2 linked regions of the Homo sapiens genome follow. The protein of the gene in region 1 purifies or fractionates together with the protein of each later gene. This does not show direct contact. Each region holds a gene or a part of one and is shown in the gene's direction. Other genes may lie near its edges.

Region 1 (7,026 bases):
GCACAATTCCTCTCTCTGCTCCTCTGCCAACCGAAAGGAAGTCTTTTTGCACTGGGAAGTCAGATTCCCGATCTGAATCACCAGAGCCAGGGTAAATGGAGTTGGGTGGGGACAGTGAAGAAAGGGAATGGTGACTAGATGATCTTACTCAAAGAGTCCCAGCGAGAAAGTGTGTTCTCTAGATCTATTTCCTCATTTCTAAAATGATATGGTTGGGGCCAGGAGGGTTGGGGCCAGCCACAGTGGCTCACACCTGTAATCCCACACTTTGGGAGGCTGAGGTGGGAGGATTGCTTGATCTTAGGAGTTCAAGAGCAGCCTGGGCAAGATAGGGAGACCCCATCTCTACAAAAATAAAAAAAATTAGCAGGGCATGGTGGCACACACCTACGGGTTCAGCTACGTGGGAGGCTGAGATGAGAGGATCACTTGGGCCTGGGAGGTTAAAGGCTGCAGTGAGCTGTGACTGCACCATTGCGCTCCAGCCTGGGTGACAAAGTGAGACCTGTCTCAAAAAAAAAAAAAATGTAGCTGGGTAGGTGCCCCCTCTGAGGTCCCTCTTAGTTCTCTCAAGTACTATTAGCCATACCCCAGGAAAAAGCAACCACAGATGATCTGAGCACAAAGGCTGCTTAGCAAAGGAAGTAACATCACACTGTCCTAGAATAACCTCAGAGAAATCAGCCTCAAAATGGAAACAATGTAGGTTTTCAGTGAGATTTTTAATTCATGAAAAGAATTCACAGTTTCCTCTAAGACAAAATTATAGATAATGTCCTCATATCAACTCCATATGTAAAGAGCAGAGTAATATTATAACTTCTTTAAAACTTCCCATCTCTACTTTTGACTTTTTGAAACTGAAGCTCTACCTTGGATTCTGTATTCAATTTTAATATGAAAAATGCTCCTTTTCTCCCACTCCATTATTTTGTAGTTATGTAGTAACGAGTTCTGGATTATTGCTTCCTGTGCTGCTACCTCGGCTCTACCCACCGCTGTTTATGCTTTATGCTTTGGATAATGATCGCGAGGAAGACATTTACTGGGAATGTGTCCTTCGACTAAATAAGCAGCCAGATATTGCTCTCCTGGGCTTTCTTGGGGTGCAGAGGTAAGTGTAGTAGTTACAAGCGCAACCAAATGGTTTTAATTTAAAATGCAAACTGCATTATTGGAAATTTGGCACTTTGATATCTAATTATATATATGGCTTGTAATTATTTTTTGCATATGTCTTCTTTAACAAAATAGTGATAGTTAATAATCTTTATTTCTGAGAATATTTGGAGATGAGTATGAAACCTGCTGATTCTTTGGAATGTGTTTTTTATTATGTTTTCATATATATAGTAATATATATTTATTATATATTAGTAATGTATTTTATATATTATGTATAGTTATATATATATATATATATAAAGTGTGAGCTATTTTGCCTGGTATTTTATAGCTCTTTAGAGCAGAATACATATCTTTGGCATTCTTCCTTCTCTTCTTTTCTCTCCTCCCTCTCCATTTGCAATTTTTAAGTTAAAGGTTTTGAAGTGTTTTTTTTTTTTTCTTTTTTTGAAAGAGAGTTTCACTCTGTCATGCAGGCAGGAGTGCGATGGTGCAATCTCAGCTCACTGCAACCTCCACCTCCCAAGTTCAAGCAATTCTCATGCCCCACCCTCCCAAGTAGCTGGGATTACAGGCGCACGGCACCATGCTCAGCTAATTTTTGTATTTTTAGTATAGATGGAGTTTTGCCATGTTGGCCAGGCTGGTCTCGAACTCTTTGCCTCAAGTGATCTGCTCGCCTCGGCCTCCCAACGTGCTGGGATTACAGGTGTGAGCCACTGTGCCCAGCCCTGCTGTTTTTATTAGAAGGTATTATTGCTTGCTATCCAGGGAATACTAAATTATTATGTTTTCTTTCTAGGGCAGTGATAAAGCTGATTCCACCTCCCCAATCTCTATTTGTGCTACCAGGAAAAGTGAATAAGCCTCAATTTTTTTTTTTTTTGAGACGGAGTCTTGCTTTGTTGCCCTGGCTGGAGTGCAGTGGCACCATCTTGGCTAGCTGCAACCTCCACCTCCCAGGTTCAAGTGATTCTCGTGCCTCAGCCTCCCAGCTAGCTGGGATTACAGGCCTGTGTCAACGCACCCAGCTAATTTTTATATTTTCTTATTTTTGTGCTTTTTTTTTATTTTGTGCTTTAATTGTTTTCAGTGGAATAATTCAGTAGTAGAAATGAGATAAAACTGAGTGAAGGAAAAATATTTGGTAATATCTGTAACGTGTAGGTTATTGGGATATAGAATGACAAATCCCTTAGGGAGATGATAAAAACTCTTAAATCACTTCTGGAATGTTTATAAAAACTTAACCTATTGTGGAGCAGTTCTTTTTAATGGGGACAAGGAAGCCAATATAGCTGTCAACTATTTTTATGGGATTTTGTTTACCATAAGTAACAACTTATATTAATAATTTATGGATTCCATTATAGGAAATTTTGGCCAGCAACCTTGTCAATCCTTGGAGAGAGTAAAAAGGTATAGTAGATTTTCTTTTCCTCAGCAAATATGCTTTTCTCTAATGGGAAGGATTTGAGATAGCAAAACTTTTTCATTTTACTTTGATAGAACAGTACCCAAGCTTGTGTTTGCATCTGTTATTACCAAAGACCTGCACTCTGACATCAGTATCATTTATTTCTGTTGTTGCAGAAAATAGTTTTCCTCCTTGACCTTCACTCTCTTTTTTGCAGGTTTTGCCAACCACGAAAGATGCTTGTTTTGCCTCAGCAGTAGAATGTCTGCAGCAGATCAGGTAATCTCTGATTTGTTGAAAAGCCATACAAATCAAAGTAGTGCTTGGTCTATTAAGATATTATTAATATGATCTTATCTTTACCTAAGCCTTAAGCATCCCCATTCTATATGCTGATGGTGTCAAACTCAATCTGGAAATCAGAAATCAGAATGAGACCCTTGGGTTATCTTTTACTCTAAAATGACCTTGCATTTTCAAAAGTAGGAGAGAGCCAAGCCAGAAATTTATCCATATAATCACATCTTTAGCCAATTGGAAATTAACCAAATTTCTCATTCAGAAAAGAGCATATATTAGGAGAATGAGATTTCACGTGGGTAAAAGGAAACAATATATGAATCGTAGACAGTTGGAGGCTACTTTTCTCATAGCACCATGGGAGTACAAAGTCATCCTTTCCAACGACTCATAATGCCTAAGTGTCCGGGTTAAGGCATGTGAATCCCAGGAGGGAATATTGTCAAAAAAGCACGATCAAATGGCTTTATTAAGAAAATTATAGGATGTCTTTTTGTCATTGTTTCTGTAACAGCACAACATTTACCCCATCAGACAAACTTAAGGTCATCCAGCAGACTTTTGAGGAGATCTCTCAGAGTGTCCTGGCGTCACTCCACGAAGACTTCTTGTGGTCCATGGATGACTTGTTTCCTGTTTTCTTATATGTGGTGCTACGGGCCAGGTAACTGTTTTATGACTTTGTTATTAGTGAGTCGTTATTTTTAAAAGTCTGCTGCTTGCATTTTCTGAACTGACAGCAGGAGTACGCTCTTCCACTAGAAAAAAATCGATTAACCCATTCCACTGTGACATTACCCTTTTATTGAGCTGTTCTTTCTTTTTCCCATCAACTAGATTCAAAAGGAGAATGGACATGTAAGTGAAAATAACTCAGCATCTTTTTCTCTCTGGGGCAGGATTAGGAATTTAGGCTCTGAGGTACACCTCATTGAGGATCTAATGGACCCCTATCTTCAGCATGGGGAACAGGGTATAATGTTCACCACCTTGAAGGTGAGTATAGTTATTATTTAATACTTTCTTATCTTCATATCTGTCTTTCATTTACCATATTATAAATGCCATTAACCACTTTTTTTGTATAAAAGTTTAATGCAAACCTTAAATGCCTTTAGAGCACATTTTGTTCTACACTTTAAAACATTATATAGTATATTAAAGTAGGATAAGCCAGTTGTTCCTCAAAATACTAAAGCAAATTCTTCATTATCTAATCCTCCTTGTAAATTGATCAAACTGTTATAAATGTTTACATTTATATAAATAATTGTAATTCTAAAAAAGAAACAGAAAGGATTCTTAGTGTCCAAGAAAGTTTCCAACAGGAGTGCTATTCAATGGAACAGGGTAAAACACAGAAGGCAGTATGTAAATAATGAATTTGAATTCCATCTTCTTTCTTTGCCTTGTATTTACTGTAACCAATAGATTACAAATGAGCTTCTTTGATCTGGGTGGCCTGGAGAGATTGTTAGAAGTCATTTGTTTCCTGCCTTGATTTTTCTTGGAATTTGGAAGAATCACTCTAAAGTTTATTGAAAAAACAGCAGATAGAAAGTGCAAAAACACTTGTGAAAAATGAGAAAGAATAGACCTACTCTTCCAGTTAGTAAAATTTATAAAATTACAATAATGAAGATAAAATAGTATGTGACTGTCACAGGAATACACAATTACCTAAATAGAAAGGATAGCTCCCATATAAACACATCATAATAAAAACTTCACATGAAAGTGGAAACACCAAACCAAAATGGAAAAGAGGAATTATTTAACAAATGGTAAAACAAAGTATTGGATAGCTTATTAGCAGTTTTGGAGGGAGGGTAGAATAGCAAATTATATAGATGCTTTGGGGTTTAAATATAGAGAAAGGAAGAGAGAAGGAAAGACAGGTAAATTAAAATAAGAAAAATAATTAGAATTCAATGTCAGGTTTCTGGCCTAGGTTAACTATTTAAACTTTTCAACTAAAATACCATTAATGCTTCTTTTTTTTGAGACAGAGTCTCACTCTGTCGCCCAGGCTGGAGTGCAGTGGTGCAATCTCGACTCACTGCAACCTCCACTTCCCAGGTTCAAGTGATTCTGCTGCCTCAGCCTCCCAAGTAGTTGGGATTACAAGTGCCTGCCACCACACCTGGCTAATTTTTGTATTTTTATTAGAGATGGGGTTTCACCAGGTTGGCCAGGCTGGTCACGAACTCCTGACCTCAGATGATCCACCCGCCTTGGCCTCCCAAAACGCTGGGATTACAGGCGTGAGCCACTGCACCTGGCCTACCATTAACACTTCTATTAAATAAACTGAAAAGGGGGAGAAACTGGGGAAAATATTGGCCACAGATGACTTAGATTATTAGTGTTTATGTTATTTGAAGAGTATCTCTAAACAGATCACCAAAGAAGAAACTGAACTAGTAAGTTTACATGTAGAAAAATACTCAACCTCACTGAAAATCGTAGTACTGCAGATTTAAATAAGGTACCATTTTGTGCTGTTAAATTATCAAGAATATTTTAAAATTACTGATGGGGTTATAGTGAAGTCATTATTATTCCCACATTGCTGATAATGGGGTAAGTAGCCATTACCCTTTTGGAAAGCAATTGTTACTAACATAGATATCAACAACATCAAAAAATGTGGAGTTTGACTCAATGGTTCTACTCCTGGGGATTTATCCTAAGAAACTAAAGAATGGAAAATGTTACATGTTATCTGGATGTGTTATTCATTGGGGTATGAGTAATTCCCATACCTGGAAACTCATAATTCAGGGTGCTTCTTAAAAATGCATTCTTGGAAGTTATGACTCCCCAGGTCTGCAATGATGCTTAATCTGTATATTTATTAATCATACTAGGTGATTCTAATTAGAGTTGTACCTTTTAATGATTGGTATACTCTAAATGTCCAATCAGTAATGGCAAATTGTGGTGTCTCTGCATGTGAAGAATATTAGCTAGCTTGTAAAAAAACTTTGTTTTAGAATAAGACGGGAAATGAAAAAATTTTGTCTATACTAATTACAAGTAGGCAAAAGACAGCCACTAGATAGGGGAACTAGAAGGGAACAGGGAAAAGTGAAATCAATTAAATCTGTTGGGCCATCAGCTGAATTTGTTCATAAGGGATTTTGTTTCTTTAGTCCCATATGCATTGCTCTCTTTATGTAATTTCTTTAAAAGTGAATTTGAAATTATTTTGAACTTTTCTTCCAGGCATGTTACTACCAGATTCAGCGTGAGAAGCTTAACTAGGCTGCATAACAGCTTGAAAACTGGATTATCTACTACAGAGTGTTATAACACCATCTGGAGTCTTCCTGTAGTGGCAAAAAAGAACAGTGTTGAAATTGGAAAGGACTTTGTGTTATTTAGGTTGTTAGAATGAGCCTTACCAATAATAAGAGCCCTGAGCCCAGAAAAAAGGACTGTATAGTTTAAAGGGAGGATTGAAAGGGAGGTAAAAAATCAGATTAGACCAGTTCTTGGCCTATGATAAGTTCCAAAAATACCATTTATCTACTATTTGAAAAAAGAAGAGGATATCCCTTCCTACAGTAAAGGGTATGTCAGCTACATGAAGTTGTAAGAAAAGCTTCCAGTAGAGCTTCTTATATTAAAGAAGTTGATGGATATTTTTGAATTTCTGGTTTGCCTGAATCCACCTGCAGTTACCCCGATCCGTTTGCAAGAACCAGATCGTACTTGAAACTATAGTGGCCACACTCTGCCTTCCTGAGTCCCTTCCAGTCATGTGTGCATCATGTCTCTTTGCCAAGGGAGGGGAGAAAGGAACTTTTAAACTGCAGTTTTAACTTTTTCTAAGCTGTTTCTTGATGGGAGAGGTTCTGTGCAAAACTACCACATTCTGTCCCCAAAATGTGGAATGCATCCAAATAGGAGTCTTCTGCCTCTTAACTTAAAAGAACATAGGAATTTTGTTTTTGGTTTCTTTATCATGCTACAGAGAGTGAATACACTGGAATTCAGACACCGACTCTGAGCTGCTAGGAACCTCATTTGTCCATGTGCAAACGCTGTATTCCAAGGCCTGTGAATGGCAGCCTGAGGAAGTTTTGCATGCAGGCTGTGTTTTCGAGCAGGACTAACAACTGGGAAATAAGCAAAAAACTGCATCGATCCCCAGCCTGGTGTTGTTCTTCCCTATACTT
Region 2 (7,026 bases), on another chromosome or scaffold:
ATTTCCATCCTTTCCTTGCTTTCTATCCCTGCGTAGGGGACATTGGGGTCCCCTTACCTGATGTCCTTTGAGGGCATCTAAAGTAATGAATGCTCTGTCTCCACTGCTGGCAGCATCTGACAGCAACGATGCTGTCGTAAAATTTAATAAAGACAGAGTGCGTGCAAGGAGGAGCCTCACATTTCTCCTTCAGTCTGCGGGGCGTCTGGGCTGCAAGGTGGTGTCAGAGGAGAACCTGGCATACTCGTGGGCATTCATCCTGGGCACACTGGCTGAGCAGGGCCGCTCCCCTCAGGCCCTGGGCATTCACCCTGGGCACACTGGCTGAGCAGGGCCGCTCCCCTCAGGCCCTGGGCATTCACCCTGGGCACACTGGCTGAGCAGGGCCGCTCCCCTCAGGCCCTGGGCATTCACCCTGGGCACACTGGCTGAGCAGGGCCGCTCCCCTCAGGCCCTGGGCATTCACCCTGGGCACACTGGCTGAGTAAGGCCGTGCCCCTCAGGCCCCGGAAGTGGGTTGGCCGTGGCTTCGACAGTTCTCTGTGGCTGATGGCAGTGCGGCCGCGATGCCCTGCTGTGCCATGCTTGCTAGTCATGTTCTTTTCCTCCTAGATCTCCATTTGCCAGGAGATGCCCAGCCTGGAGGTGATCACGCTCAGGTACCTCGCTCCTGCTGTCATGCTCAGCCTGGGGCCTGGAAGCCGGGGCAGAGCCTCACGTCCCTCCAGTGGGACCCAGCACTGTGACATAACCTGGAAACCTCCAACACAGACTGAGGGCGGCTTCCAGAAGGGGAGGGGCCGGGACAGCGAGAGCTGGGCCTACCCTGTGGCCCCCATGTTCAGCCCTCCTTCCTCAGAGCCTCACCTGGGCCTCCTGATGGCTCCTGTCCCCTGCCTGCCCTGCTGTACGCCTGCCCACCCTTGGCCTGTGTGCTCCGATAAGCCATTGCTGTGTTCACTGGGCCAGTCGGTGGTGGAGCCCTCCTAAGGATTCACGGTGGCCCGCCCTGGCCGCCCCCACGGTGGCCACATCTGCCCTGGGACCCCCAGAGTCCTGGCCTCTTCTGCCCCCCAGTGCCACCACTGCCTACCAGTTTCTCTGCACCCCATGACCTGTGCCCGTCTTCTGGGGTCACTGCCCTCCCAGCAGACTAAGGGAAGCTTGAATGAACAAATGTTACTGGACTTTCAGGCAGTTGGGGTGTATTTGGGGGCTCTGGGGAAGAGAAGAGCTCCCTTTATCCCTGAATTCCCTCCTGCCTACTGTGGGACCCACGGAGGGAGCAGACGCTCATGGCTCACCACTGCCCACCAGACGCTGGATGGGCGCCTTCTGTGGGTTTCCGCATTTAAAAGCTCACAAGGGTTTAAACCCTGTGGGGAAGGCCCACCCCTCTGGCAGCTCAGAAGTCTCTAGGGCTTGCCCTCTGAGAGTGGGTATTGCAGGCCCCTGGTCCCTGACTGTGACCTACCTTCTTGATCTCACAGGCAGCCACGGGGTAGGCCAGCCCCTGCCCATCCTCCGTAATGCCCTCTGAGGTTGGCATTGCCATGTTGATGCCCGTGCCCAGCCTGCTGCCCGCCATGGGCTGAGGCCAGTCCATCTGGTGTTCAGGCATCCCCAGCGCGGGCACCAGCCTGTCCTGCCCGAGCCTTGCTGAATGAATGAAATGGGCTTGGAGGCATGCTCATGGGTCAAATCTCAGCCCTCCCATCTATTGGCTGGCTAACCTTGGGCGAGGCATGGCCCTCTCTGTGCCTCAGTTTCCTTTCTGTAACATGGAGGTATTACAAGTGCCCACCCCACAGGGAGATGAGGAGGAGATGGAGCCCGAGTCCAGAGGTTGAGCAGGGGTGCGCGTGCCCGCCCAGAGGTTGAGCGGGGGGGGGGGGGGGGTGCGCGTGCCCGCCCAGAGGTTGAGGGGGGGTGCGCGTGCCTGCCGCGGGGCTCGTTTCACTAGTCAGGCGACACAGTGAGGCTGGGATTTCAGGCCTGCCTCCGAAAGGCTTACCTGACAGGGAAACGTGGAGCTTGTGGTTCCCACGGTGGCAGGAAGCTTGGGGCGGGGCTGTGGATCCAGCCCTATCCCTGCCGCTCACTGAGTCACCCAGGGGCCACAGGGCCTCCGAGCATCAGGCCGCTCGTGTGTGGGGCCATTTCTGTCACATCTCGGGAGGGACAGGACCCCAGGGGTGTTGACCGAGCTCAGGTGCGTGGTGCCTGCACGCCTGACTGCACTGGAGCGGAGCAGGAAGCCTCGAGGCCGCGGACGCGGTCGGTACATCACGCTGCTGCCTGTGCCTGAGGCAGACCCCATCCTGGAAAGAGTCCCACAGCCGGAGTTTTGCTCTTGGTAAAATGGGGCGGCCTCATAGCTAGGAGCTGCATGAGACCTGGGAAACCCCGAGTGAAGGGATGGCATGGGGAGGGGGGCTCAGGACGGCAGGCTGCCCATGGGGGCCTGGTGACCGCCCTTCTGAGGCGCCTGCCGGACGCGAGTGCAGCCCTCCAGGCAGGGGGCCCTGGCTCCGCGCCTTTGAGGGCCTGCGGGAGCGGCTCCGCGTGTTCGCTTGTGGAGGGGACGGACCCCACGCTGCAGGGTAAAGCCTGCAGGTCCCCGCTCCAGGCCTGCTGTTTCTCTTCTCTGACGCGTCCACGTTCTGTAGAATGGAAATGAGGCCCATCCCCAGTGTTGCCGCCCTCAAGTGGGGGTTTGGAAGGTCCGTGCTCACTCCCATGTCACGTGGAGCTGGCTCCTAGTTTTTGCCATGAGTTTTTCTGGCCGCTCCCTGCTTTGGGGCAACATGATATGTCCCCTGAGAGGCCTTAATTTTCCTCACCTGTGAAGGAGGGCCACATCCCCCACCTCCCGCACTCTAGCGCCCTGAGGAGCTGATGTGGAGCGTCGGGCCAAGGGGCTGTTGCTGGTGGGGTCCACCCCAGTCCGCCTTTGAGTTCAGGGCCTGGCCTTCCTACAGCTCTCTCCTCGGCCCAGGTCCTGCTGCACGTGACTTGTGACATCCGATTTAGGCTTCTCAGGAGAGGGCAGGGACACAGGTCCCATGAGTGCCTTTTACTGGGGGTGGGGATTGAGAGGTGGCCCTGGGGGCCCTGGCCACGTCCCTCGCTGACTGTGCTGGTCTCCGTGCAGTGTCAACAGCATCTCCACCCTGGAGCCTGTGAGCCGGTGCCAGCGCCTGAGTGAGCTGTACCTGCGGAGGAACCGCATCCCCAGCCTGGCTGAGCTCTTCTACCTGAAGGGGCTGCCGCGTCTGCGGGTGCTGTGGCTGGCCGAGAACCCGTGCTGCGGCACCAGCCCCCACCGCTACCGCATGACCGTGCTGCGCACCCTGCCGCGCCTACAGAAGCTGGACAACCAGGGTAGGTGGCCGCAGCGGAGTCACCGGCCCTCCCAAAACAATCCCTGGAAGGGGATGTCCCCAGCCCTCTTTTCTCTTCTCCTTTTCTGCAAATACCTGGTCTGGCGGGACATAGATGTGTCCTGTGAAGTCTCCTCCAGAGGCTGTTCCCCTGGCTTCTGTGTCTCCTCTTGATCCCGCCACCCGAATGCAGCAGCGCAGCGTAGGGTCCCTCCTGGGACTGACAGTTTGGGTATCCCCCAACGACCGCAGGACCTGGTAGCAAAGCAAAAGGGTTCCTTCTTTTGCTTCTGTGAGTAGCAGCCCTGCTCTGACCATCGCCATGCGCCATGGCGAGCGGGGGCGTCAGTATCTGGCAAGCAGCATCGCACTGGTCCACAGGGACTGGGCAGGCTCCACGGGCCACTGTGAACCTAGGGTGGCGGTGCCATCGCGCCCCTGCCGTGGGGAGGGGCCGTCCCAGCACCGCAGTGCCTGCTGCTGCGCTCCACCTATTGGAGGCACTCGTGCCTCCTCTAGCCAGCGCCAGCACCGACACAGTTTTCCAGGCTGTGGTTTCATGCTGTTTGTTCATCCTTGGCATTCTCAGCACACTAGTGTCTCATCCTTGTCAGGTATACAGACACCACTATTTTCTCCCAGACAATTTTATTGATATTAATAATATAAACTTCAGGGAAATTGATATATGAGAGAAATGGAATAAATTCAATATGGTCTGTTCCTTTTTCTATTGTGTCTTAGTTGAGGTTTTGAGGAGTATTTGCTTCTGGCCAAGGCTGGTGTTGAGATTCCTGAGCAGCCCTCCACCATCTGTTGTGTGTCAGCCTGTGCCAGGCTGGGGATGGGACAGTGAGGAACCGGCTGCTACTCTGGGAGTTGTCCCTGGAGGTGGATACACGTGCATGCATTTCACAAGCAGACTGTGCCTGAAGCCACAGTGAGGACGGGAGCTGCAGTGCATGTGGCCTGCACGTGGGTGAGGCCACTCATGCTGTCTTCTGTCTTTCATCCCAAAGCTGTGACGGAGGAGGAGCTGTCCCGTGCACTGAGTGAGGGAGAGGAGATCACTGCGGCCCCAGAGAGAGAGGGCACAGGCCACGGCGGCCCCAAGCTATGCTGCACACTGAGCTCCCTCAGCTCCGCTGCTGAGACTGGCCGGGACCCGCTGGACAGCGAGGAGGAGGCAACGTGAGGCTGGAGGGCAGCGGGGACTCCGCAGCCCATCCCTGTCCCCCAGGGTCCTCCCACGGGGAGTGAATGGGGCTTCCCGTGAGCTGCGTCTCTGGGAAGTGAGGGACAGGGATTATCCGGGGGGAGTGTCTGTTCTCATCCATATTCTCTGGGAGTGACTCAGTGCCCAGGTAGTGATTTCAGTGGCAGGTCCATGTTTTGCCCAACAGCGGATGTGCCAGGGAGCAGGAGAGGGGGTGAGCCAGGCCCCGTGCCCTGGCACAGAGAAGGCTCACAGCACCAGAGCTCGTGAGGTGCAGGGAGCCCCTGGTGGGGGGGGTGGCCTAGGGCCACAGTGACTGGAATGGTTTGTGGGCACGGCCATCAGTGCCCGTATGGCCTTGGGCCTGGGGGCCGTGGAGGGGCCACAGGGCTGACTCTGCAGTGAGACGCCGGCGCCTCCCAGGGCAGTTGGCAGCGGGTCACGAACGCATTTGACAGAAGCTGGGCACTTCTCTCCTGCTTGGCAGATCACACCCGCTGCTGGTGCCTGTGGTGGGGGCATCGGGATGTGATCTCTGTTAGGCATCTGCCATCCGGCACAGGGCCTGACCCCATGGTCAGGAGCTCTCCCCCGGCATTTGTGTGTTCGGGTGCCCCCCACCCTGCCCCTGAAGCCCTGGGTGGAAGGTGTTACAGCTGGGGAGCCCCAGGGTGCCGGGAGGGCGCCCCACAGGTGAAGTAAGTGCCGGGCTCTCCAGGAGCTGCCATCTGTAGCCCCTGACCTCCCAGGAGTTGCCTCCCTTCTCTTGCCCCCGTGTGCCAGGTGGGATTTGTATGAGCCCCTCCTTTGCTTGGATGCGACCCGCAGACAGGGTTTGCAGAGGCCCCCCCGGTGCCACGAGCCCCCTGACCCTCACACGCCTTTGTCTCCCTCTCAGCAGCGGCGCCCAGGATGAACGTGGCCTGAAGCCGCCTTCCCGGGGCCAGTTTCCTTCCCTCTCAGCCAGGGATGCCTCGAGCAGCCACAGGGGCAGGGTGAGTGGCGGGCCGCTAGGGGCCGCGGCTGCCTCTGCCCACTGCACCCACTGCACAGAAACCGTGGGGAGGGAGCATGGAGCCTCACAGGGCCCCGTGGGGAGGGAGCATGGAGCCTCACAGGGCCTTGAAGAGCTGTGCCCCAGGGGGAGCTGCGTGTGCGGGTCTGTGAATGCGCACACACGTGTAACACGTGCCCCGCACGGAGCCGTCCTGGCCCCTCAGCCTCTCCTGCTGTCCTGGTCTGTGGAATGTGGGCCCGGGCCCTGCTGGGCTGAGGGCAACAGGAGTCACGTGGAAGAGGTGCCACACACGCGTCCACAGGCGGGGCTCCTCTGCTCAGATTCTCCGAGTGTGCCGGTCAGTCACTTGGACGGCCCACACCCCCGGGACCAGTCGCTCCGTGGTGGGGCACCGCTGGCCAGGCCCCAGCCCTTGTGGAGGGAAGCAGCCTCGCCGTGCCGGGTGGGCTTAGTCCGCACCCCTCTGCCCTCAGAACGTCCTGACTGCCATCCTGCTGCTGCTGCGGGAGCTGGATGCAGAGGGGCTGGAGGCCGTGCAGCAGACTGTGGGCAGCCGGCTGCAGGCCCTGCGTGGGGAAGAGGTGCAGGAGCACGCCGAGTGACCGCAGGACCTGAACGCCGCTCCAGCCTCCACGGGGACCCCAGCGTCTTCCCCAGCCCCCGGGAGCTGGAGGGTGGCTGCCATGGCCGCAGCCCCGGCCCCACACAAAAGCCTCCCCGGTTTGCCACATCGGCCGAGGGCAGGAGTGGGTGTTAGGTACTGGCTAACCGGGGCGGTGGAGATGCCTGTCTACACCAGTCCTGTCCCCAGGACTCCCCTTCTGTGGTCTGGAGGTTCTAGGCTGGCCTGGGCTCTTAAAGGGAGGATTTTGCAGGCTGTCCTCCCTAATAAAAGATTTTCCCAAGGTTGATCTGGAGGTGACGTTTCCCAAGGCATGGTTGTGACAGTCTTCCTGAAAGCAAGGGCCGTTTCTCCACAGAATGAGGAGGTCTTCACGGATGGCTTTGCCGATTCCAGCCCTTGGTCCTTGGATAGATTTCTGTTGGGCAAGGGAGACTTCGAGAATGCTGGCACCCATAGCGACATCTGCCCTGAGCTGCTCAGCAGGCAGGCAGCAGCCTCCCGCACCCATGGGAGAGAGTTTTGTTTTCTTGGCCGGGCTGGGCAGGTGCGCCTTCCTTTCTCTCTCCTGTGAAGAACTGCAGGAGGGCCCTCAGCTGTGAGGTTGTGGATGAACAGGCCTGTTCGCCCTGGGGTCCGGGCCTGGCACAGGAAGCAGCTAGACTAGGGGAGTCCTTGGAGCATCTGAGAGGGGTTTTCTTTCCTCTGGGAAGAGTCGCAAGTCTTATGAGGATGCCACAATCTGGGCAGTGACCCGTGGCCCTGGGGACCTTCCTAGTGCCCCCCA

Evidence for each region. The genes of interacting proteins can lie anywhere in the genome.
Region 2: the proteins of ALS2 (region 1) and CFAP410 purify together in Homo sapiens (affinity purification with mass spectrometry; 2 studies listed by BioGRID and IntAct, with this or other methods). This does not show direct contact.

Annotation. Positions count from the first base shown.
Region 1 is NC_000002.12:201,700,934-201,707,959, reverse strand, and holds part of ALS2 (alsin), read left to right. Parts: coding exon 1-91; intron 92-937; coding exon 938-1,114; intron 1,115-2,498; coding exon 2,499-2,544; intron 2,545-2,759; coding exon 2,760-2,821; intron 2,822-3,356; coding exon 3,357-3,506; intron 3,507-3,741; coding exon 3,742-3,838; intron 3,839-6,070; coding exon 6,071-6,109; 3' UTR 6,110-7,026. UniProt on the Homo sapiens protein: May act as a GTPase regulator. Controls survival and growth of spinal motoneurons.
Region 2 is NC_000021.9:44,329,391-44,336,416, reverse strand, and holds part of CFAP410 (nuclear encoded mitochondrial protein C21orf2), read left to right. Parts: intron 1-612; coding exon 613-659; exon of another isoform or gene 660-3,154; coding exon 3,155-3,384; intron 3,385-4,402; coding exon 4,403-4,574; intron 4,575-5,497; coding exon 5,498-5,594; coding exon of another isoform or gene 5,595-5,954; intron 5,955-6,090; coding exon 6,091-6,219; 3' UTR 6,220-7,026. UniProt on the Homo sapiens protein: Plays a role in cilia formation and/or maintenance. Plays a role in the regulation of cell morphology and cytoskeletal organization. Involved in DNA damage repair.